Regions from separate parts of the Homo sapiens genome. Here region 1 is linked to region 2. Evidence: fine-mapped expression QTL. A gene starts in region 2. The other region holds a variant in brackets. All regions are shown on one strand. Distances are between the middles of the regions. Region 1 holds the start of LOC124904163 (a long non-coding RNA gene). Region 2 holds the start of ERMAP (erythroblast membrane associated protein (Scianna blood group)).

The links. PIP is the estimated chance that this variant, and not a neighbour inherited with it, causes the effect. A credible set is the group of variants that fine-mapping cannot tell apart.
Region 1: its variant is the best candidate, but not a certain one, in a credible set for the expression of ERMAP in thyroid (GTEx, PIP 0.53).

What each region holds. Positions count from the first base shown.
Region 1 is chr1:42,831,838-42,844,138 of GRCh38, reverse strand. It overlaps ERMAP (erythroblast membrane associated protein (Scianna blood group)), which reads right to left. Exons shown (of 12, transcript NM_001017922.2): 5 at 8,985-9,101; 6 at 8,375-8,407; 7 at 6,949-6,981; 8 at 5,218-5,238; 9 at 4,086-4,106; 10 at 3,961-3,987; 11 at 3,843-3,869; 12 at 1-1,622. The coding sequence ends at 907. It overlaps ZNF691-DT (ZNF691 divergent transcript), which reads left to right. Exons shown (of 5, transcript NR_186083.1): 3 at 689-735; 4 at 1,223-1,364; 5 at 2,126-2,244. It overlaps LOC124904163 (a long non-coding RNA gene), which reads left to right and starts at 6,480. Exons shown (of 2, transcript XR_007066035.1): 1 at 6,480-8,299; 2 at 9,008-12,239. The variant G/T (reference allele first, on the strand shown) is at 5,442.
Region 2 is chr1:42,809,764-42,822,064 of GRCh38, reverse strand. ERMAP (erythroblast membrane associated protein (Scianna blood group)) reads right to left here and starts at 4,943. Exons shown (of 12, transcript NM_001017922.2): 1 at 4,812-4,943. It overlaps SVBP (small vasohibin binding protein), which reads left to right and starts at 4,668. Exons shown (of 3, transcript NM_199342.4): 1 at 4,668-4,875; 2 at 5,485-5,634. The coding sequence starts at 5,521. RefSeq lists silencers at 4,525-4,814, 4,965-5,164, 5,725-5,794.

The DNA of each region.
Region 1 (12,301 bases), 22 kb before region 2:
AAAAAAAGCTTCTACGTTGGTGGTTAAAACTGCCACTTTTTCTAGCTGGACCTCTCTGAATCTCAGAAAGGGTTGGCACAACAGATTGATTCATAAGACAGTCACAACAGACTCAACAGACTGAGCCTCTGAAGGTCTGGGCCAAGGTCAGAGGGCAACATACAGCTGAGTTCTCTGCAACTGTGTTTCCCAGCTCCCTGATGTGCTCCTGGGGCTTTTCAGGATTATAGCAACTGTATTTAAAGTCGCTGTACCTAGTTACCATCAACAGGCAGATTAGCTTTTGAAAGCATGTACATTAGCTCTGGATATCACCAAACTATGTTGTAAACAGCATCAAGAAAATAGAAAAGGATGGTATGTTTTACTCATCAGCCTTTCCCAATTCATTCCTGAAGAAAGAGGGAAAGAGTGAGTGGTCTAAAACATGCTTGCTTTTAGAGAGCTGACTTTGGGGGGCAGAGGCCAGAACTGAGAGAGAGAAAGGCAGTCCTCAATGGGATAAGTAAGAAGTCAGGGACTGGGGGCCATAACTTCTTGACTAAAGCTTGAGGGCAGGATGAGGCAGAGAAAGTGTCTTCTAAATAACCCCTGGAGTAGCGAACTCTTTTCCCTGAACCTGTGCTGTATCTTGGTAACACATATTCAACATCTCCACCTGCACCTAAACTGATTGTTTGGTTTCCAGGAATCCTCCCTCCAGGTCACTGGGAGCTTCAATTCCTTAGAAGAAAGGTAAGCTTCAGAACTGAGGCCTGGGAGAAAAGTGGTACAAATAGAAACCACAAAAGGGTCTGGATTTGGGTTAAGGTGAAGAGACGTTCCATAATCATGGGGTTGGGCCAGGCGACTGAAGTCCAGGGTGCTGGGCTGGATGGTGATGGGAGCAGGTAATGTGGCATATCCCTAAAAAGAAGGAGCCTTGAGCTCCTGAAGGGCTGGGCCAAGGTCAGGGGGCAAGGACAGGATTATATCCTTCAGCTCTGGGGCCTTCGGGGGTAGTAAAGAAGAGTTCACCTTGAGGGACACATCTCCATTAGCATGGCCTTTCCCTTCTGGCCTGGGGACAATTGATTCCTCTGATTTGTGTAGTTCTGAACAAATGACTAGAGGTGCTGTGTTTTTTCCTCCATCATGAAGGCAAGGTTCAAAGAAAGGGCGAAGGGGGCCAGAGAAATTGTGGGTGAAAGTAAAGATGTGGGACTTGTTGGTCACATTGTAGAAAGAGATGACTCCTGCTTCATAGTCCAGGAAAATCCCCACACACCGTGGAGGCTCTTTAAGGCGGAAGGAGGTCTGCGGGGATGTGAGAGCTTCATACTCATTCCCACGACTCTGTCGCAGAAGCCAGTGTCCATTGGCAGGTGAGGCAGTAACCTTCCCCTTCCTGCTCACTGACTCACTACATACTCCAAGAATCCATTTGGTCTTGTCTCCCACATACACCTCCCAGTAGTGGCAGCCAGTCGTGAAGTACTCAGAGCCTAGGATGCTGACAACGAAATCAAATCTCTGGGGGTTGTCAGGTACAGGCTGCCGTCTGTCTCCAAGCCTTACACATCTTTGGTCCTCAGAAAGGATGAGTTTGGGATGTGCTGTGTCTGGGTCCAGGGTCACTGCCACTGCAAAGAGACACAGACAGGTGAGGCTTGGAAGTATAGGTCTTAAGGGATTTGGGGATGGCTTTGGAGGGAAAAAGAATCTTAGGTCTGCCATCACTGTCATTAGCCCATTTTAGTTCATGGATTCCCGCCCCCACCATGTGTACTGGAACCAAAGAATATTCTCTTTCAAAGAATAGGTCTCCTGGTCGATTACTAAGTAATAGAAGAAAAAGTTCTTCTTCATCTGTCTGTGAAACTGCTTTAATCCTCAGGAAATAACTACCTGTTATGATTTAAGTGTGTCCCTCAAAAGTTCACGTGTTGGAACCTTAATCCCTCATTGCTGCAGTGTTCAGAGGTAGGGCTTAGTGGGAAGTGTTTGGGTCCTTCACAAAGAGATGAATGCAGTTTTCACAACACTGGGTTTATTTCTCTGGAGAGCAGGTTATGATAAAGCAGGTCAGGGCACTTTGTCTCCTCTCTGCTTTTGGAGGCACTCACTTGCCCTTCTGTTCTTCCAGAAGCAACTATCACCATACTATGAAGTAGCACAAGCCCTTCACCAGATACAGTCGCCCAATCTTGGACCATCCAGCCCCAAGAACCATGAGCTAAATAAACCTTTTTCCTTGATAAATTACCCAGTCTCGGGTATTCTGTTATAGCAACAGAAAACAGAGTAAGACACCACATTTGTCTTTGATGTTCCAAAATAATCAAATGTGTGATGATAAATACAGGGTTTGTTGTTAGATCCTGTAGCCACATAGCATGTTTGAATCCCAGCTCTGCCACATGCTAGTTATGTGACCTTGGGCTTGTTACTCATCTCTGAACCTTAGTTTCCTCATCTGTAAAATGGAAATAGTAACAGAACCTGTGTTGTAGAGCTATTGTGCAGACTTGATGAACTAATGATATAGTGCCTCATTCCTACAGTGAGTGCATGATATTCATTCTGTCACCTAAAATTATTACTTATAATTATCTGCTTTATTTTATTTTATTTGAGGAAGGGTCTCACTATGTTTCCCAGGATGGAATGCAGTAGGTATTCATGGGCATGCAGTCATAACACACTACAGCCTTGAATTCCTGGCCTCAGGTGAACCTCCCACTGCAGCCTCCCAAGTACGTAGGACGAAATTATTATTTTTAAATGTTAATATAGAGAGAAGGATTCTTCCCTAAAATTGTGGATTATGAGTGTCACAGTGAGTCTCCTTCCTTCCCCAAATACAGGAAACAGCTTCTTCTTAGAGAGTTAAGTCTATAAACCATACACAGTTGAGATGGTGGCAATAAGCCAGACTGTAAATGTGAGACAGAAGGGTTTGTAAGTTCCCAGAATGCCAGCCAAGGTGACCTGGAGTTCTCTCGAGTGGCCAACTCATAATTTGTTGTACTCTGCCTGAAGGAAGATGGTGTGAACAGGAGGAGGATAAAAGCCTAGAAAATTGATAAGGATCCCAAAGCAGTGAAAAAAACAGGTCCCATTTGAACAGCAGCAAAAAATGCAAACTATTTAGGAATACATTGAAAGAGAGGTGCAAATCTTTTCATAATGTATATTGTTGGGGCATCTGCTCAACCCATTCCCTTCTTCTCTGAGAATCTCAATCACCACCCCTAAGCAAATTGGTCTGCAGAGAAAGAAGAAAAAGCAAATGTGTAGAAAGAGGCGGAAGCAGTGGCTATTTATCTGGTTGTGGGATAGGAAGGACTTCCCAAACCTGAAAGCATGGAAGAGACTACACAGAAAAAGATGAATGAATTTGACTACGTAAAAATAAAACACTTATGCATCAGAAAAATACTATAAGGAAGTACAAATGAAAAGTAATGGTGACAAATATGACAAAGAGCTAATATACTTTATCTAGAAAGAGTCTTCACAAATCAAAAAAAAGCCCAAATAGAACAGGAACAGACAAGTCACACAAAGAAGAAATACAAATAACTGATAAACATAGGAAAAATCTCAAAAACCACAGAAAACCCTTAAGAAGACCAAACCTAATATTATCAGTGCTCTAAAAGAGGGGATACTTTCTAAATCTAAATATGACCTCAAGATCGATCACAAAGATTTTTTTAATTTGATAGTCAGATATACAGATTTGATTTAAAAATTTTTAAATTACCTGCATTCCAGAGGAATGGAACAAAATCTAAGGTTACAAAGCCATAAGGAGGAAGTGCTCTGAGATATGGACCTATTTGATTGGTATAACTTACCAAAATGCAACCGGGCTCTTCTCCAGCCTGAAAAATGAGAAAAGGGGATCATTAAAGTACCAGAGACATCAAGAACTCCTGTAGGGTGGTGGTCAAATGTGGAGAAAGTGCATCTCACCTGAGTTTGCTGCAGCTCTTTTCAACTCTATGAAAGAAGAAACAAGGGGAATGAGCTATCACTGCAAATATTAGGGCAACAGGAGATAAGTTGGTACGGAAGTTACAAGAACATGGGAAACTTACTCAGTTCACTCCGGAGTTTCTCTAAAGAATGAAAACAATTTGGCAAATCAGAAGGAGGGCCTCTATGTAGAGGCCCTCCCATAATGCTACAGTCCCATCCCAACCATGAGCAGACAGATACTCAATAGCTATACCCTGGAACTTCCCCAGAAGAGTTTGCAAGAGCAGTAGATCCCAGCTGTGGACCATGGGAGTATCCCCAGAGATACTGCAGAGGATCAGCAAATTCCTATGTGAGCCAAACCTTATCTGCAGGCTAAATAAATAACACATCTCACACCTACAGGTAATGACAACATAAATTATGTAGATGTTGTAGGAAATATTACTTCATTTAAAACTATCACTGAGTATTGGACTTTGTGATCATGTATATTTTCTCAATGTAATAATTAATGCATAGATATGTCACATGTCTACAGATTTATTTTTATTTTTATTTTGAGATGGAGTTTCGCTCTTTTTGCCCAGGCTGGAGTACAATAGTGCAATCTCGGCTCACTGCAACCTCCGCCTCCCAGGTTCAAGCGATTCTCCTGCCCCAGCCTCCCAAGTAACTGGGATTACAGGCGTGCACCACCACACCCAGCTAATTTTGTATTTTTAATAGAGACGGGGTTTCACCATGTTGTCAGGCTGGTCACAAACTCCTGTCCTCAAGTGATCCACCTGCCTTGGCCTCCCAAAGTGCTGGGATTATAGGCATGAGCCACTGCACCTGGCCAGATTTTTTTTTAATGTTAAAAAGAGGTCCTCACACATGAAATGATGGAGAAGTACTGCTCCAGCATATTCAGTTTAATAAGGATCCTGTCCTCCTGGACCCCATCTAAGGAAATGTCATGCCTGGGTGATAAAAGGGACTTCCAGATGGCTTCACCTATGGGAGATGCATCTATCTCTTCCTGGTGAAACGTTTTTCATTTAAAGACTAAATAATAGTTGTGCAGGAAAGAGGAGCAGAGAATACTTGAGAAAAGAGGCCTTTGAGAGCCAAGAAAGCCCCAGTCCCCATGGCTTGAATTACCAGTACCCCCTCCCTTCTGCCCCAGGAAGTGAAACTGAGATGCTCATCCCAAAGCAAAAGTGTCAGCAGAAGGAGCTTGTGCCATGGATGAGGAGCAAAACTTACTGACAGCTTTATGGAGTTTTCCTAAAAACCAGAAAGAGAGAGAAGAGTGAGTGATCAGATCCTGCCTCTTTTTCCTCAGAGCTGTGGCAGCCTCATCACTCCAACCCACAAGATTAAAATGATGGTGACGCTTCTATGTCCCTAGTCCAGCTCCGTGTCCCAGAGTTCAGACCCAGAAATCTGATGGTGCTGGTGACACTGTCCCAGTGACCCAGCCTGCCCGG[G/T]ACTTTGGTTCCTCCTTCCCCTTCCCCTCCTTTTCATCTGTCTGGTTTCATTTCTGCTGTCGGCATGAGTGTTTCTATATGTTTGTAACTGCGGTACATGAGTGTATGCACTGCTGTCCTTTTATAGCCCACCGTTTATGGTATCTAAGGTGTAAAACTAGCTAAAGGCCTAGCATGAACTTGTTAATATGGCTGTATTATTCTCTACAGTAACTCCCCTGAGGTTATAAATTTCACAAATTGGAGGTCCCAGAAGATTTGGGGACATGTGTATGAGACATGTGTTTCTGGGGAGTACTTGCAGCTTCTCTGGAGGGCCATGTGGCCCACATTTCCCCCTACCCAGCATTGGCCCTGCTAGACAATTGAAGTTACACATCCTGAGTCCACCACCAGTCCCTGTGCTAAGGGCCGGGCATGTGTTAGGCATTAGGCATTGGAGCAATGCAGCCGAATACGACACGGCTCCTAAGGAGCTTATGGTTTATTGTTACCATCTCCACTACTAACAGCTTCCATTTACTGTCTGCTGTGCTTATACTGAAGTAGGCACTGAATCCTCTCAATAATGTGAGATGCCTAGAATTATTATTGCCATTTTATAGGGGGGTGGTCTGAGGCTCAAAGGGACACAAAATTTGCCCAAGGTCTTCCAGCTAGTAAGTGACCAAGGAGGCAGGATTCAATCTAAGTCTGTCTGACTCCTGAGTTAGAGGCCCTCTCCCTTACCCCACACTGTTCCCTCTTCACTTGAGCAGAACAGCCAGTGTCTGCCAGATACACGCCACGCTTGCACCAGCTTGGAGGAAATGTAAGGAGGGAAGAGAGGAGACGCTGACATCATTGAATCTGGAGTCATCTGAGCCAGTGACTTGTCTTCCCAGATAGACTTCAACAAGGTGTCCAACTCAGTGGCCCACAGTAAATGTCAAATTAATGAAGACAAAATGGCAATAAGGAAAAGGAGTTCCAGGCACTGTGACAGATTTTTTTTTAAGGTTGCCTGTTTTAACACTGAAAACAATCAGGTAAGGGGAAGTTATCTGCATTTTGCTGATGAGGAAACCAAAACCTAAGTGGCAGACCAATGATCTGAGGTGTCACTGACCCCAGAGCCTGCGACCCTTCCTTTGTATCATACCACCTCTCTCTATGCAAAGGTTGTGTGGATTCTTGAAATTCCCATATATCCCATATGACCACATTAATATACTTTTCAATAATATGTAGACTTCTTTTTAAAATGGTTGGCGGAAAGGCTAATGAAGGGAGTTTATGGTAATCTAGGCCTGTGAATTTTGACCTGGGCACCTCCTTACCCACTGCCACAAGCTCCACAGCCCCTTAACATTGCACACTAAATTCCAGTAATATCAATGGAGGATATATGTGTGCATGTGTGTACAGTATTATAAAAATAGACTTATAATAATGACTGTCAACATTTACATAGAAAAATAAAGAATGTGTTTTTTGTTCCCTACCCCTTACTCTTTTATATCATTACCTTTTTCTTTAGCATGGTCTGAAAGAAGATTGTCTAGAGGAAGAAAGGAAAAGATAATGAGATTTTTTGCCACTGCCTTGAGGATCCCTGATTCCTATTGATTTTACCTGCCCTTGGACCTGTCCACCTCTATCTTCACCTCCACCTCCCTGATCCGGTCTCTAATCAACTCTCACCTGGACAACAGAAATGGCAGCCCAAATTGTCTCCCACATCCTGTCTTAATCCCTCTGGTCTCTACTAAACTCTGCAGCCTGAGAGAATTGTTTAGTTTTTTTTTTTTTTTTAAATCTGCCACCCTGGCTGGATTGCAGTGGCATGATCTTGACTCACTGCAGATTTTTTTTAAAAATCTGCCACCCTGGCTGGATTGCAGTGGCACGATCTTGACTCACTGCAACCTCTGTCTCCGGGGTTCAAGCAATTCTCCTGTCTGTCTCCTGAGTAGCTGGGATTACAGGCACGCACCACCATGCTCCACTAATTTTTGTATTTTTAGTAGAGACAGGGTTTCGCCATGTTAATCAGGCTGGGCTTGAACTCCCGACCTCAGGTGATCCACCCTCTTCAGCCTCCCAAAGTGCTAGGATTACAGGCGTGAGCCACCATGCCCGGCCAAGTTTTTCAAAGCACAATTACATCTGATATCCCCATTCCTTGCTTTACCACTGCTCTTACGAGAATGACTAAAATCCTGAATGTGACCCACCAGGCCTCAGGAGGCTCAGCTCCGCCTCACTCCCCAGCCTCACCCCTGCCACTTTTCCCCTCACTCCTGCACCTCCTCAACTCCCCAGTGAGTGCTGCTTTCCCCGACCATGCTTCTCTCTGAAGCTGTTCTTTCTGCGGTGGCTGGTTTTCCATTCCCTCTTCACTCATGACTTCTAGTCCTTCAGGACAAACTTCATACCCTCAACCCTCAAGCTTGGTTGGTTCATTCTGGTCATAGCCTTCACAGAACCAGGAGCTTTCTTGTGTAGCTTTTGTACACATTTATTTGTGTTAACTATTTAATTCATCTCATTTCCCTGACTACACTGAAAGTTCCAGGAGGGCAAAAACTGTGTCTGCTTTTACTCACTATTGCATCCCCAGAATCTAGTATTGTCCAGGGCATTTTGTAGATAATTATCAAGTATTTGTTGAACAAATAAAAGCTTCCCCCATGTTCAAGCTACTCGACTCCCATAGAATAAGATCAAGCAATGAGCTCACAGGCAAAAATCATTAAACATACAGGAAGGCAAAGCTATTACAAGTAAGAGGCAGTAAAAACTGGAAGCAACGGATTTAGACATTGCCACCATCACCAAGGATAGCAGATAATGGAATTTTCAGGAACAGAATCCAGGTTAGTGGGTATGGGGGGCACAGAAATTAACAACAAAAGAAACATCTCCCCTGCCCCCCAGCCAAGAACACTTACCCACCTCCGTCACATGTTCATAGAGAAGCTTTTCTAAAAGGGAGAGAGAAATGCCAGCTCAGCTTAGGAAGGGCTTTTTCTAACAGGCACAAGTGTCCCAAGATGCCCCCAGCTGCCTGAGTAGGACTGACTCCTTGTCACTACAGGTAAGCGGGCATTTGAAAGGATTAGAGAGTCTTCAAACCATCAGATAAGGGCAGGAGTGTTGGATTACATGACTGTGACTTTCAAAGTCCCTTGCAGCCCTGAGATCCTGTGAAATGTGACCATTTTTTATGAGAGTCTTATCCAATGGATATAATTGGATTTCTTTATTAAAGGGCTGTAATTCATTTCTTAGTTAATTAGAAGGCTGGCATAGTCGGTTATTTTCTTATTTTTCAAAGGATGAGAATTTACAGCTCTGCCCAGGGGCCTTTCTGCAGTTTATTGAACTCCCTTTGCAATGTGTGTCCCCAGGGCATGGCTCTACCAGTTTTCTCCCAGCCAACTTGCAGTGTCCCCAACCTATGGAGAAGTGTCAGGTCTACATCTACTTCCGTCTGGCCCTTTCCCAGAGCAGTCATAGTCCCACTTCCCACCAGCCTGAGCTCCCTTACCATTTAATTACCTTTTGCTCTTCTTTGCTTCCAGATAAGGCAAAGGCACACCATGATGAGAAGTACCAGGACAGGCAGGATCACAGCCAGAGCCACTGCTGAGGGGGAGAGACTCCCCACAGATGGGGCTGAAACAGAAACCACCAACGACTGACCTCAGGGAGATGTCTAAGAGCTTCTGGCATGCCTCAGATGGCAGGCGGCTCCAGCACATCCCAACACTCTCCATCACCTCTAGGGAGAGAGCTCCGGCCAAGAGGCTCTTTGCTTCTCTGATAACTCAAGCCCTGGATAGCATTAAAGATAACTGAGGCTGGGAACGGTGGCTCACGCCTGTAATACCAGCACTTTGGGAGGCAGAGGCAGGAGGATCATCTGAGATCAGGAGTTCAAGACCAGCTGGCCAATGTGGGGAAACTCCGTGTCTACTAAAAATACAAAAATTAGCCAGGTGTGGTGGCGGGCACCTGTAATCCCAGCTCTTCAGGAGGCTGAGGCAGGAGAATCCCTTGAACCCGGGAGGCAGAGGTTGCAGTGAGCCAAGGTCACACCATTGTACTCCAGCCTGGGTGACAAGAGTGAAACTCCATCTCAAAAACAAACAAACAAACAAACAAACAAAAACTGAGATGTTCCTCTCTCGGGAATGGTTTGGATGGTCCTGCCTCAAGATGATGACTTAAACAAACTTCTTGACCACAATCTCATCCTGCCCTATAATTCAATGGAAAAATAAGCCCGGGACTTCAGAGGACTGAAGGCACTCTCCTCACTACACACCTCCAGTCTTCCCAGGAGCACCTGCCTGTTTACCCCTGTCAATCCTCACTCTGCTCTAGAAGAGCAGGCAGCAACCTCTTTGCCCTGAGCACTGTCCACGGGGGCAAAGCAATTTCTATGATGCCGCAGCAGTAGGCCTGAAGCCTAGGCAGGAGAGAAAGGGGAAAAGAAAGAGGAAATAGAGGAGAGGAAACGAGCAGAAGCGGGCTATGGGTAGAAGTAGTTAAGAGCCTAAGCTGGGAGTATGTCCTTGCTCAATGCTGTGTGACCCAAAGCAGGAGACTGAGCACCTCCCAGCCCATTGTCCCTCATCTGTAAAATGTGTGCATGACAGGACTCCTTATCTCTTTGAGGTTTGGAGAGATTTAAAGAGGTCAGTCATATAAAGCATTCAGTCTCCTAAGTAGCCGGGATTACAGGCACATGCCACCATGCCTGGCTAGTTTTTGTATTTTTTTGGTAGAGACAAGGTTTTGCCATGTTGGCCAGGCTGGTCTCCAGTTCGTTTCAAGGATCATTAAAAGGTTCAGGCCAGGTGTGGTGACTCACACCTGTAATCCTAGCACTTTGGGAGGCTGAAGCAGGAGTATCACTACAGCTCAGGAGTTTCAGACCAGCCTGGGCAGCATGGTGAGAGCTCATCTTTATTATAAATAAAAAAGAAAAAATAAGTAAAAGGTTTGAACCCTTGGACCCATTAATTCTACTGCCAGAAGTACATTATTAAAAAAAAAATCAAAATCACTTTCCAAAATACGTTCAAAGATGTTCATTGCACCCTTCATTATAATATGAGGAAAATTTGGAAAGCATCCAGATGCCCAGAAACAGGGCTTTGATTAATTTTATTATTCTATAGCCACATGGCAAAATACTATGCAGCCCTTAAAATCATATTACTTAGGGACATGGGCAAAGAAAACAAATGCTCATGATATCATAAGTGGAAAAATATCCTGGGCACAAGAATACACATGTGTAAACATACATGCTCAGAGATACATATATACAAAAAAGTCTTGCAAGAAAGATACAAAAATGTTAGCAGCAGTTCTCTCTAATTTAAGCTATTATAGGCCATTTTTCAGTTTCCTTTAAATATTTTGGATTTTTTTCAAATTTTCTACAATATATATGCTTTATTCTTAGAATTTAAAAAAATTGAAAATTCCTCAAAAAGTTCCTGCTAGGGTAGGAATTTCCTCAGGAACCACCAGCGCCTTCAAACCTGTTTCCACCCCAGCTTTTACTTGTTATGACCACAGCTGTGGTCTTCTCTTGGCCAAGGGCCATGTTGTGGATGGTTCAGGACACATTCCCCAGTGTGCTGTCCCTGACTCTGCTAGACACTGCTATTTGGAAGAGCCCAGCTTTTTCCAGAGAGTGGGCCTCTGACAGGGATGGAAGTACCCTGCCTTGAGGTTCTCTCCACTTGGCCCAGGGCTCTGGGAACCATCCCACCTATCTGCACACCAGCAGGGCCTCTGCCAGGGTATGGTCCTGGCCATGGCCCTCTTCCCCCATAGCCTCCTGTGATGAACAGGGGCAGCTGTTAATGGAACTTGTCCTCTCTCCACTCTCTCCCCACGCTCCTCCTAATGGGATAAGCCAGTCTCTAGCTTTATTCTCAGACATTTAAAAATTCACCCATAGCAATAACTGTATCACATGATTCAGATTCCTGTGGGCACCTCGGTCCCCTTTTAAAAATTACTTTTCAGCTGGGCATGGTGGCTCATGCCTGTAATTCCAGCACTTTGGGAGGCTGAGGTGGGAGGATCACCTGAGGTCGGGAGATTGAGATCAGCCTGACCAACATGAAGAAACCCCGTCTCTACTAAAAATACAAAAATTAGCCGGGCGTGGTGGCACATGCCTGTAATCCAGCTACTCGGGAGGCTGAGGCAGGAGAATCACTTGAACCTGGGAGGCGGAGGTTGTGGTGAGCCCAGATAGCATCATTGCACTCCAGCCTGGGCAACAAGAGTGAAACTCCATCTCCAAAAAAAAGAAAAAAGAAAAAAAAATTAGTTGGCCATGGTGGCGGGCACCAGTAATCCCAGCTAACTCAGGAGGCTGAGGCAGGAGAATCACCTGAACCCAGGAGGCGAAGTTGCAGTGAGCCAAGATTGCACCAATGCACTCCAGCCTGGGCAACAAGAGCAACACTCCATCTCAAAAAAAAAAAAAAAAAAAAAAAAAAAAATTAATTTTCACCCCAAAGGACTCCAATTTGGAAAGTCTGTCTACCAACTACTGAGTGTTTTAAAGTAATTGATTCATCCCCACTTCATGGTGTGTGACTTCAAATTATGACCAAAAGATAATCAGCATGTGACCATGTGAAGCCAGTGTCATTCAAGCAAATGCAAAGACATGGTTTGGGTTGGGTTGAGTTGGGTTTGGTTTGGTAGACTGATTTTTTAAAATATTAGTAGACTGATTTTTGTGGACTGATTTTCAGTAAACTGTTTTTTTTAAATATTGAAGCTAGTTTGAGAACACTCTCAACTGGGTGCAGTGGCTCACACCTGTAATGCCAATACTT
Region 2 (12,301 bases):
AAAAGTAGTAATTATATTTAATTTTTCTTAGTTTTCTTTTTTTTTTTTTTTAGAGCTAGGGTCTAGCTCTGTTGCCCAGGCTGGAGTGCAAAGGCACAATCATAGCTCACTGCAGCCTTGAACTCCTAGGCTCAAGTGATCCTCTTGCCTCAGTCTCCCTAGTAGCTAGGACTACAGGTGCATGCCACCAAGCCCAGCTATTTTTAAAAATTTTTTTGTAGAGATGGGGTCTTACTACGTTGCCCAGGCTGGTCTCAAACTCCTGGCCTAAAGTGATCCTCGCACCTTGGCCTCCCAAAATGCTGGATTACAGGCATGAACCACCACACCCAGTCAGTTTTAATTTTTAATATGGAAAATTTCAAAAAATATAACTCATATAAACTGAAGCTCCCTGAGGTCCTCAATAATTTTTAAATGTAAAGCGTTTCTCAGAATATATACCTAGAAGTAGTATTGCCAGGTTATAGATGATACTAAATTGTTTTCCAAAGTAATTGTACCAATTTATAACTTGTCATAATTAATATTTTTACTGCTTTCTCCAGAAGCATTTTATCAGATAGTCTAAATCACATCATAAAATGAGTTTCTTATCTGAAATGTTCTTTTTAGACTTCTAACTCTATGAGTGAGAAAAACAGATACAGACATAGATAAAGATATCACTCATAATCGTAATCTCAGAATCCAGTAATAATCACTGTAATTTTTTTGGTCTATATGCTTCCTGACTTAAAAAGAGGGAGCTCTAGATTTCCAGTTAAATAAACATGTCTCATTGAACACAAATGCTTATCTCTGTTACCTCCCAAAATGATCTAAAATGACAATCTTGGAGTGCAAAAGGAAAAGCCTATAAGGACAAAGAGAACAGGACAGTAAGTAACTGTGCAATAGAGATGTCAATACATTTCTTTAATGAAGGAAAGCAGAGGGCTCACTAGTAATAGAGCTAGGAAAAACTGAACTCTAACCCAGGTGCCTGCAGAGGGAGGCAGGATTGGGGGAAACATCAGATAAAGGGTTCCTGACATCAACCCTTGACATCAGCAAGAAGAAAGCTGATTCTCAACTGAGAACCTTCCAGGCTTGGGATGGGAGGGACCAGGGCCTGGCTCTACCTCCCGGGGTTGTTGTAAGGATTAAATTAGCTAAAACATGCAAAATACTTAAAATAGGGGCTGATACTCAATGGTAGCTGTTATTGTCTGAGGATAAGCTCCAACTTGAAAGCCAGAGACCAAAATAAACAACAGAGACAATCTAGGAAGCAGAAGAAAACAGCAGAAAATTACAACTGGAATCCTCAGAAATATGAAATAAGAGAAGATCCTGAATCCACAACATAAGAGCAAGAGGCTACCAAAAAGGAAAGTCGGGGATCAAACAAAAACTCTTGGAAATTAACATTTTTGTAGCAGAAATGAAAAAATTCAATAGAAGAACCAGGGGATACAGCTCAGGAAAATCTCTTGTAAATTAGAATAAACAAAACCAGGAAATGGAACATGAAGAAAAATTTAAAAACAGGGAAACTGGCTGGGTGCAGCAGCTCATGCCTGTAATCTGAGTACTTTGGGAGGCTGAGGCAGGAGGATCACTTGAAGCCAGGAGTTCAAGACTAGCCTGGCCAACATAGGGAGACCCTGTCTCTATTTGTTAAAAAAAAAAAAAAAAAAAGAGAAACTGATCACAGAGAACGTTTCCCAGAATTGAAGACTTTGTTTCCCAATTGAAAGGGGCCACCGAGTGCTTAGCATAATGAATGAAAAATACTTAAAGGACAGTTTGTTATGAACGTTCAGAACATCAAGGATAAAGGAGAAAAATATCCTAAACAAATTAACAAATTAACAAACAAAATATATGGGAAGTAACACAAGTCAGAATAAATCAGTCTCCTCAAGAGTAGCCACATGAGAAGCTAGATGACAATGAATCAATGCCGTTAAACTTCTGAGGGAAAATAATTTCCAATGTGGAAATCTGTCACTCAAGGATGAAAGAAAATAAAGCCATTTTTAGACAAGCAAGGACTCAAAAATTTAGCTTCCATGAACCCCTTCTGGGGAGTTAGTGGAGAACATACTCCTCCAAAATGAGAGAATAAACCAAGAATGGAAAAACATAAGATCCAGAGAGCAGGGGATTTGGCACAGGAGAAACAAGAAGAGAATCCCCAGAATGTGGTTAGGTCCCTAATCCTAGGACAAGAGCTGTGAAGCAAGGCTAAGCAGAGGAGTTTGGAGCAAAGAGAGGATGAGTCTAAGGAGGGATGCTGCCAAGAAAAAAAAAAAAGACACTGGTAAATGACCTGGTTCACATCTGTAGTACCAGCCACTGAGGGGCTGAAGCGGGAGGATCACTTGAGCCCACCTCTGAAAATAAAAAATAAACAAGGGATGCATAGATCATTAAGCAAATAAAAATAGATAATTTTTTGACTCTAGAAAAAATATTATTCAATAAAGTGAATATAATCTTAGTGTAGTATATACCTCAACTGTAAAAATATTCTAGTTATATTACTATAAACTCTTGCTAGTCATTCAACAAACCAGGAAATTCTGCAGCCTGGCCAAGAGTCCACTGGTAGACACAAAAGAGACAGACAAAGCATAAACTCATGGAAAGAATAGAGAGGGGACTTTGACAGTGTTCAGCCTCAACATTCACTCCCTCCTGGCTCCAACCTTCACCTTCCCAATAAAGAATGTAGAATCCCAAACTGGTATCTCCAGTTCCGTTCTTTTCTGAAATCTTCTAATTGCTCACTGGACAATTCTTCTTGCCTATTGCCACTTGAAGCGTAATCTAGCTCTTTCTCTCTCTCGGTCCCTCTCTTGCGCGCGCGCACACACACACACACACACACACACACACACACACACGCTCCTAACTTATCCTCTTCCTCACCGTTTCCCAAACCAACTCATCACACCTTCTCCACTTTCAACAGTGGCTCAGTGGCACCACTACTTTTCCAGTCTTCCATGTGGCTTTTCCACTCCTCCATTCCCTATAGCTGGTTTGTTTTTAGCTGGCTTCTAAAGGTCCTGCCGTGTCTTCAGCTGTAATCTAGTTCATAGCTTATATGAACGTTATAAACCATACCATGTGACACAAATGTAAAATACCAGTACTACATCAAGATTTCTGAAATAGACTCTGACTTGGTTACTTTTATTAATAATAATCGAATCAGCATTTGTATAGGGTTTTTAAAAAGACATTTAATGTACTTTCCTCTGATTGCTAAAGTATAAACGTTTACTGTAGAAATTTTGGAAAAGCTGGGCGCAATTGCTCACATCTGTAATCCCAGCACTCTGGGAGACTGAGGCAGGAGGATCACTTGAGCCCAGGATTTCCAGATCACCCTGGGAAACACAGTGAGACTCCATCTCTACAAAAAAATTTTAAAAAATTAGCCAGGCATGATGGTGTGTGCCTGTAGTCCCAGATACTTTGGAGGCTGAGGTGGGAGGATTGCTTGAGCCCAGGTTACAGTGAGTTATGATCACACCACTGCACTCCAGCCTGGGTGACAGAGCAAGACCCCATCTATTTTTTAAAAATTAAATAAATAAAAAATAAACATTGTGCAGTAGATCTCTAGAACTTTTTCACCTTACAAACCTAAAATTCTATACCCTTTAAACAATTCCTCTTTTCCCTCTCTCCTAGCCACTGGCAGTCACCATTCTACTTTCTGTTTCTTAGACTTTGATTGCTTTAGATACTTCATATGAATGGAAACATGCAGTATTTGTCTTTTTGGGGCATTGTGCTCACTTTTAAGGCTTTTGATACCTAGTACTAAACTGACCTCCAGAAAGGCTGTTAACGATTTACAGTTTGACTGGAAGCGTGTGTCCATCTGGGCTGAGTTCATTGCTTGCTTAGCATCTATCAGTTGTTTCAATTCTTGCCAGTTTGATAGAGGAACAAATAGTGGACCCAAACAGGGTTTTACTTTGGATAAGGCCATTGTCCTATGAATCCTGGCTGAAATATTTGCTCCAGCACTTAGAAGCTGTGTGACCCGGGACAACTCACTTAACTTTTCAATGCTTCTGTTCCCTTATGTGTAAATGGGGATAATAATATACACGTATACATTATACACACTTATTATGAGGAATTAGTTAATAAATGTGAAGCTGTAAGAACAGTGCCTGGAATATAGTAAGCCCAAATGTAAGGTAGCTATTATCATTTTTGTCAATCCTTGCTAATGTAATACCTGGAAAATTACAGCCAGCTATTTTAATTTACATCTCCTCGGTAATCAGTTGAACGTGAATGTTCTCTGTATTTATACTGGCTATTGGTACTTCTGTCAAGATTTCCTTTTTCAAAGCACTGTGGCAAACGGGATCTCACTTGATCCTCCCAATAAACTCATGAATGAAGAAGGTGGCAATCATCAATCCCCACTTTTCGAATTAAGAAATTGAGCCTCGGAATTCGAATTCTGAGCAATTCCAATTCCAGGATTCGGATCTCACCCTCTAAAACCTAGTAGCTGTTGCAGAAAATATAACGGGAAAAAGCTTTGGTTAGCCGTAACCACCACCCACCCCGGTGTGGCTCCGCCCCTGCCCCGCCCCGGCACCGGCTTGCCCCGCCCCGCCCTCTACGCGGGTTTCCAGCCATCCTCTCTGCGCACGCGCGGCCGCTCCTGCGGGCGGAAGCCTCCTGGCGCTCGGCCCTGCGCCCCTCCCCCCGGCGCGCGGCCCCGCCCAGGACGAGGGGCGGTGGGCAGGCAGCGCTGGGTCCAGTGGTCGGGGGAAGGCGAGGATTACCCTCCCGGAGGCGTTGTCTGCGACTCGGCGGAGGCTCCAACTTCCAGTGGCCCGGTCGGGAAAGGTACAGACTCCCAAGCCTCTTGGTCGGCGGCTCCAGCGACCGCCATTTTCCTCCAGGAGAGGGAAGAGGGCAGGAGGCGGGGGCCGTCCCCTGGGGCCGGGCGGGCCGGGGCGGGGTCGGGGGGCCGGGCGGTGGGGGGCGGGCCCGGCTGGCTATGGGGCCCGGCCCCCTGGCCCCAGGAGCGGCTGCTGCGGCGGAGTTAGGCCGGCCGCAGTGGGAAAACCCTGGGCGCCCTCTGGGTCTCAGCGTCCCATTAGGACGGTTCCGCGCTGGGTGCCGCACGCCGCACAGTGGGCAACGCTTTCACAGGGGTCTTTGCATTTCACCCGCACACAGCAGCTCCTGGAGGGAGGCCAGGAAAACACTTAACCCATTTTGCAGACAGAAAACTAAGGCTCAAAGTGGGGAGGAGACTTGCCCAGGGACACCCAGCGAGGTTGTGGCCTTGGGACTCGGTTCCTACTCCCCCACATCCAGCGCCCTTGCCACCAGACCACTCTGCCTCACCTGGCAAAGGATGGGGCGGAGCTAAAGGATTAGAGGAGTAACTGGCAGGGTATTTTTTGTTTTGTTTTGTTTTGAAGATCTGCCTCTTTCTGTACCACCCAGATCAGAGCCTCCTAAGAAATATCCAGAAGTCAAGCCATGGATCCACCTGCACGTAAAGAAAAAACCAAAGTTAAAGAATCTGTCAGCAGAGTTGAGAAGGCCAAACAGAAATCAGCCCAGCAGGAGCTGAAGCAGAGACAAAGAGCAGAGGTGAGATTAAGGCGGAGGCTCTGTATGCCTGTAGTCTGCTGGAGATGATGCTGGAATAGAGAAACAGCAGAAAGGAGAACTGACAGCGAGCCATACTTGCCTCCAGGCAGGATGGGTGTTCTCCCAGGTTTAGAGGGGACAACACTGAGGTTCAGAATGGTGAGGTGGCAGCCCAGAATCACATGCCAAGTTAGTGTCAGAACCCCAGTCTGGTGCGGAGCTTTTGTGGTAAGAGACCCAAGGGAAGGAAGAAAGGAAAAAAAATGATATGTAAGGGGAAAGAAGGGGTCAGAATGAGAGAGAGCACGCAAGTGTCAGACACCCCCAGTACAGATGTTCTGGATTTGGTGCGGAAAGCAGCTACTCATGCCAGGTAGAGGCCCAAGCTTTAAACTCACCAGTGTGTTCCTTTGTTCTCTCAACGATTACAATCAACTTGAGAATAAAAAGCTTTAAACTTTACCCTGCCAATATTGAGCCACATACAGACATAAGTATTTTATTTTAGTATTTAATGTCAGGGAAAATCTTGCTGGTCTCTTTTTCCCTCTTTGTTTTGTTTATCTGTCTGCTTTGTTCATTTCCTGTCTTACATCCTTTTACTTCTCCATGGACAACTACTTTTTTTTATACTTTTACATTCAAATATATTAATAGATATCCTTGAACAATATACAGTAGTATTTTAAATTTTTACATTAATAAAATTCCTGCATTTTATTTTGCATTTTGCTTACATTGTTTTTTAGAACTATTCATGCCAATATAAGAATTTAGTTTATTCTCATTAATTTTTATAATAGTCTATTTTATGCATCCATTTTACTTAGTATATTTATTCATTCTTACAGAGATGCACATTTAAATTATTTATAGTATTTTTTGCTATTACAAACATTGCTGTAGTGAAAAGCTTTTAGGTGTCTCCTTTGGCACCTGCCTTAGAATTTCTGTAGGTTATTTAACTAGAAAAATTACTGGGTACATTCTCAATTTTACTAGACATTGCCACATTGCTTTTTTTTTTTGAGATGGAGTCTCTTTTTATTTTTTATTTTTTATTATTATACTTTAAGTTCTAGGGTACCTGTGCACAACATGCAGGTTTGTTACATATGTATACATGTGCCATGTTGGTGTGCTGCACCCATTAACTCGTCATTTACATTAGGTATATCTCCTAATGCTTTCCCTCCCCCCTCCCCCCACCCCACAACAGGCCCTGGTGTGTGATGTTCCCCTTCCTGTGTCCAAGTGTTCTCATTGTTCAGTTCCCACCTATGAGTGAGAACATGCGGTGTTTGGTTTTTTGTTCTTACGATAGTTTGCTGAGAATGATGGTTTCCAGCTTCATCCATGTCCCTACAAAGGACATGAACTCATCCCTTTTTATGGCTGCATAGTATTCCATGGTGTATATGTGCCACATTTTCTTAATCCAGTCTATCATTGATGGACACTTGGGTTGGTTCCAAGTCTTTGCTATTGTGAATAGTGCCATAATAAACATACGTGTGCATGTGTCTTTATAGCAGCATGGTTTATAATCCTTTGGGTATATACCCAGTAATGGGATGGCTGGGTCAAATGGTATTTCTAGTTCTAGATCCTTGAGGAATCACCACATTGTCTTCCATAATGGTTGAACTAGTTTACAGTCCCACCAACAGTGTAAAAGTGTTCCTATTTCTCCACATCCTCTCCAGCACCTGTTGTTTCCTGACTTTTTAATGATCGCCATTCTAACTGGTGTGAGATGGTATCTCATTGTGGTTTTGATTTGCATTTCTCTGATGGTGAGTCTCTTTTTTTTTTGAGACGGAGTCTTGCTCTGTCACCCAGGCTGGAGTGCAGTGGCGTGATCTCTGCTCACTGCAACCTCTGCCTCCCGGGTGCAAGCAATTCTCCTGCCTCGGCCTCCAGAGTAGCTGGGATTACAGGCGTGCACCACTGCCTTGGCCTCCCAAAGTGCTGGGATTATAGGTGTGAGCCACTGCACCCGGCCGATATTGTCAACTTTTAATTTTTGTTAACCTGATTCATTCATTAAATATTGGCCAGGCACAGTGGCTCACACCTGTAATCCCAGCACTTTGGGAGTCCGAGGCAGGCGGATCATGAGATCAAGAGATTGAGACCATCCTGGCCAACATGGTGAAACCCTGTCTCTACTAAAAAAAAAATTAGCTGGGCGTGGTGGTGCTCCCTGTAGTCCCAGCTACTCGGGAGGCTGAGGCAGGAGAATTGCTTGAACCCAGGAGACGGAGGTTGCCGAGATTGTGCCACTGCACTCTAGCCTGGGCGACAGAGCTAGACTCTGTCTCAAAAACAAAAAAAAAAGAAAAAGAACTGCTAGTATGTGCCAGGCACTGTTCGAGGAATTTGAGTCACATGATGACAAAGCAGAAAAGAATCCCTGCCTTCATGGATCTTGCATTCCAGCAAGGGGAGGCAGTAAACATAATAAGTAAACTTACTAGTGCATTTGAAGTTAATCTGTAAACTGAAATCTACCTTTGGGTTAAGGCAGACCCCCTGAGAGCTGTGGTCCTTTACCTTCCCATTCCCACCTGGATCCGGGTCCTCAGATGATATGACTGCATTGTGCTTTGGTGAACAATATGAGGGTTGCTATAAGAAACAGCCCTGAAGCAGGAGAACAGAAGCTACAGATAAGAAAACCATTGATCAGAGAAATGGTGATATAGCCAAGGGAGCTCTCACTGGAGGAACAGAGCTATCTATACTTCCGTGTACAACAAATGCTCTGGGAAATGGAGAACCAGTTGCCAGCCCATATGTGGTTACCTCACACCAATCAAAAGTGACTGTGGAGAGCACCCCCAATTTGGAAAACCAAATGAAAATGGAGTATCTCTGTTCAGAATGAAAATTTTGAAGAAATTATAAATTTACCCATTGGATCGAAACCATCCAGATTAGATGTCACTAACAGTAAGAGCCCAGAAGTTCCTTTGAATCCAGTTTTGGCCTTTGATGATGAAGGAACGCTTGGGCCCCTGGCTCAGGTAGATGGTGTTCAAACACAACAGACTGCAGAAGTTAAATGCGTATTTTTTCTGAAGAACCAACGTCAAAATTTAACGAGAATTTCTATAATTAATGGAATTCCTTTCATGCTATAAAAGAGCATCCCCTCTTCCAGTTTTCTAAAGATTTCTTGACCATCATTTTGAAAAGATTTATTTAAACTAGCTAAAGACAACAGACAGGATAGCTTTCCTAATAATTTTCATCAGTAGAAAAAAAATACTCCTCATTCTTCAGTACTTTCAAATGGCTTTTTCCAGTGTGCTCCTTCTTAGCAAATTAGTATTTTTCTGCGTTATTTAAAAGACAAGAGGATTTGGCTATAAAATGATTGACTAGGATTGACTAGGCATGATTTTTTTTCACATAGTTTGGTCTTAAAGCTTAACAGCTTAAAATTGGCAAAAAAAACTTGTGCCTTTTACCATGTAATACTTGAAAAGTAAGTACCTCTTTGCTACAAGTAGAATGAATAGGGAAAAGTTTAAGCCTGTTTTTTTAAAAATATTATTTTAAAGAGCTCTATTTGTAGAGGCAAATTATAGGCAGATTACCAGTTTCTTATAAATACAAACTTGTACATGGACATTCTGCAAACCCAGCTGTCATATTCTTGCAACTACTTTTGCAAAAGCATACTAAAAGGTTTTAAAATGTGAAAAAACATTATTTTTTCAGAGCAAGAAAATAATTTACTGTTGTCTTCAATAATGTGTAAAGTTTTTCCAGATAAACTAATCAAATAAATTAGAACAATGTGACAACATTGCAAATTTGTCATTAGATGCATTCCTTCTAACGTTACCAGGGGAGGATGTTACTGATGATTCAAGGCTGTTTCTGAAGTCTGTGTGTTGCTACTGTCCCCAGTGATGGTGGGACTTACCTCTGTCCTACTTGATCACAAATTATGTTAGGGGGAAATAAAGATTTAATATTTCATTAAATAAAAAAGAAATTTGGTTTTGCTCATTTAAGAGCAACAAGAAAATGGTGGTGTGTTGACTGTGTTTGGCCGCAGGGCACAGACCTTTATGGAAGTCCTCGCTCTGCATGGCATCCACCAGCTTTTCACCTTTCATTCTTATTCTTCACTTTTGCTGCTGAGCCTAGCTGTACAAATTTGCACTTTCATTTGCTAATGTAAATTCAATTTATTTTACCATTTTAGAGACTACTAATGATTAAATGTAAGAGAGGACACATGTTTTTATGTGGAGTGTTAAAAAAGATAAATTTATACCACTGTAATGTGCTGGATTTATTAAAAGAGATTGGTTAAACTGCTCGGTTGAATGAGAGACTTCCTCTATTGTACTCTTTTTTTTTTTTTTAAATCCAAGGATATTGTCTTTAGTAACAGCTTGTAACTTGTTAAAACATTAATTTGGGGTTTTTCCCTATTCTTAATTGTCTATGTACACATAGTAATTATGTTAAAATCCGTTTTTAAAAAAAACAGCCCTATGAAACTGTCCTCTGTGCATATTGTAAGGATAGATGTTGAGGACATTGTTCATGCCCTTATTGACACCCTTCTGTAAAGTTCTATAGGTTAAATTTATTTGTCTGACTTCAAATCTCAGCTCCTCCATAAATCCCAGTTCTTCCATGTGACGTTGGACAAGATACTTAACCTCTCTGAACCCCCAGTTCATCAGTTCCTCCTTGGTAAAATGAGGATAACATCTACCTCAGAAGACCATTAAAAGGAATAGAAATACCACGTGTAAAGCCCATAGCGCAGTACTTGGCAGAGGAAGCATTTGATAACTAGCAGTGATTATGATCAGGAATAATCTTGTGTTTCCAAGCAGGCAGCCTGCTCTTATTGTGTGGACCCTAAATTGAACAACTGCTGAGTTCCTGTTGACCTGCTGAAATGCAACGTTGCTGCACTCAAGCAGCAGCTGGCCCCGTGCAGCTCTTGAGATGTGCCAGGACCGAGCCAAGCCTACACATGCATAGCCACATGTAGTCCTCACACCAGGGCTCCAAAGCAGGAGTTATTGTGACTCCCATTTAACCTTGGTTAATCCGATATGTAAAATATATGGCCTTGTGAGGTAGGCAGTATTATCCTCACTTCAAAGGGATGTGAGTAGAGTCCTGTAGTTAAAGAGGGGCAGGCCTGTGGTCTAAACATCTTCTGACTTTTGTCTGTTGTTTTTTGCCTTGCCCCCTACAGCTGCCTTGCTGTTTTTTTTTCTGTTTGGTTGGTTGGTGTTTTTGTTTTGTTTTGAGACGGAGTCTCGCTCTGTCACCCAGGCTGGAGTGCAGTGGCACGATCTCGACTCAGTGCAACCTCCACCTCCCAGGTTCAAGCAATTCTCCTGTATCAGCCTCCTGAGTAGCTGGGATTACAGGCACCCGCCACCATGCCTGGCTAATTTTGTATTTTTAGTAGAGATGGACTTTCACCATGTTGGTCAGGCTGGTCTCGAACTCCTGACCTCAAGTGATCCGCACACCTCGGCCTCCCAAAGTGCTGGGATTACATATGTGAGCCGCCGCGCCTATCCTGTTTGTTTTTAATCTTTATTGCCTGGAATGTAATGCAACAAGACCCTTTGTGGGGAGGAAGAGACAGTTTCTATTCAATTCTGCAGACGCCAGATTCCAGAAAGTTAGATGTGAAGGAGAGATGTGGGAGGTGAATGGGAACGGAAGGCACATTGGCAGTGGAAGCACCGTTTGACACTGCTAGGGTCCGTTTCCTTCTTGACTGAGAGTCATTCTTTGGCCTGGACACCCTGACCCATTGTGAGTCTCCTCTTTCTCCTACCATCTTGCCTCCTTGATCTGGAGGTCTCTGAGAAGCTATTTAATTTGCATCTCAGTCCCTAGTACAGTAATGTGCAGATTAAAAATGCTCAGTAAATACTTAGTGAATGAAGCAAGCAGAGGTTTTCAAATATATATGTATATATGTGGGCCCGGGCACAGTGGCTCACACCTGTAATCCCAGCACTTTGGGAGGCCAAGGTGGGCAGATCACGAGGTCAGGAGATCAAGACCATCCTGGCCAACATGGTGAAATCCCGTCTCTACTAAAATACAAAAAATTAGCCAGGCACGGTGGTGCACGCCTGTAGTCCCAGCTACTCAGGAGGCTGAGGCAAGGGAATTGCTTGAACCAGGAGGCGGAGGTTGCAGTGAGCTGAGATCGGGTCACTGCACTCCAGCCTGGTGACAGAGCAAGACTCTGCTCACAAAAAAAATATATGTGTGTGTGTGTGTGTGTGTGTGTGTGTATGTATGTATGTGTGTGTGTGTGTGTGTGTTAAAAGTATATTTATATAATGTGTGTATGTGGCTTAAGAATAAAACACCCAACTATAGAACGTGACCAGTAACTGGGAAGCTTTGTGTACTCCTTTCCTGGTCATGTACCTCACCCTTCCCACCAGCAGTACCCTCTTTGCTGTATTTTATGCTAATCATTCTTGCTGTTCTACGTTAATTTACTGTCTGTGTACCTCTAAATATTTTGTTGTGTAACAATATATTGTTTTGAATGTTTCTGACCTTTTATATATGTTACCGTGACTGGCTGTCTTCACTCAGCCTTTTTTTAACCATTCAAGTTTATTTATTTTTATTATGGTAAAATATA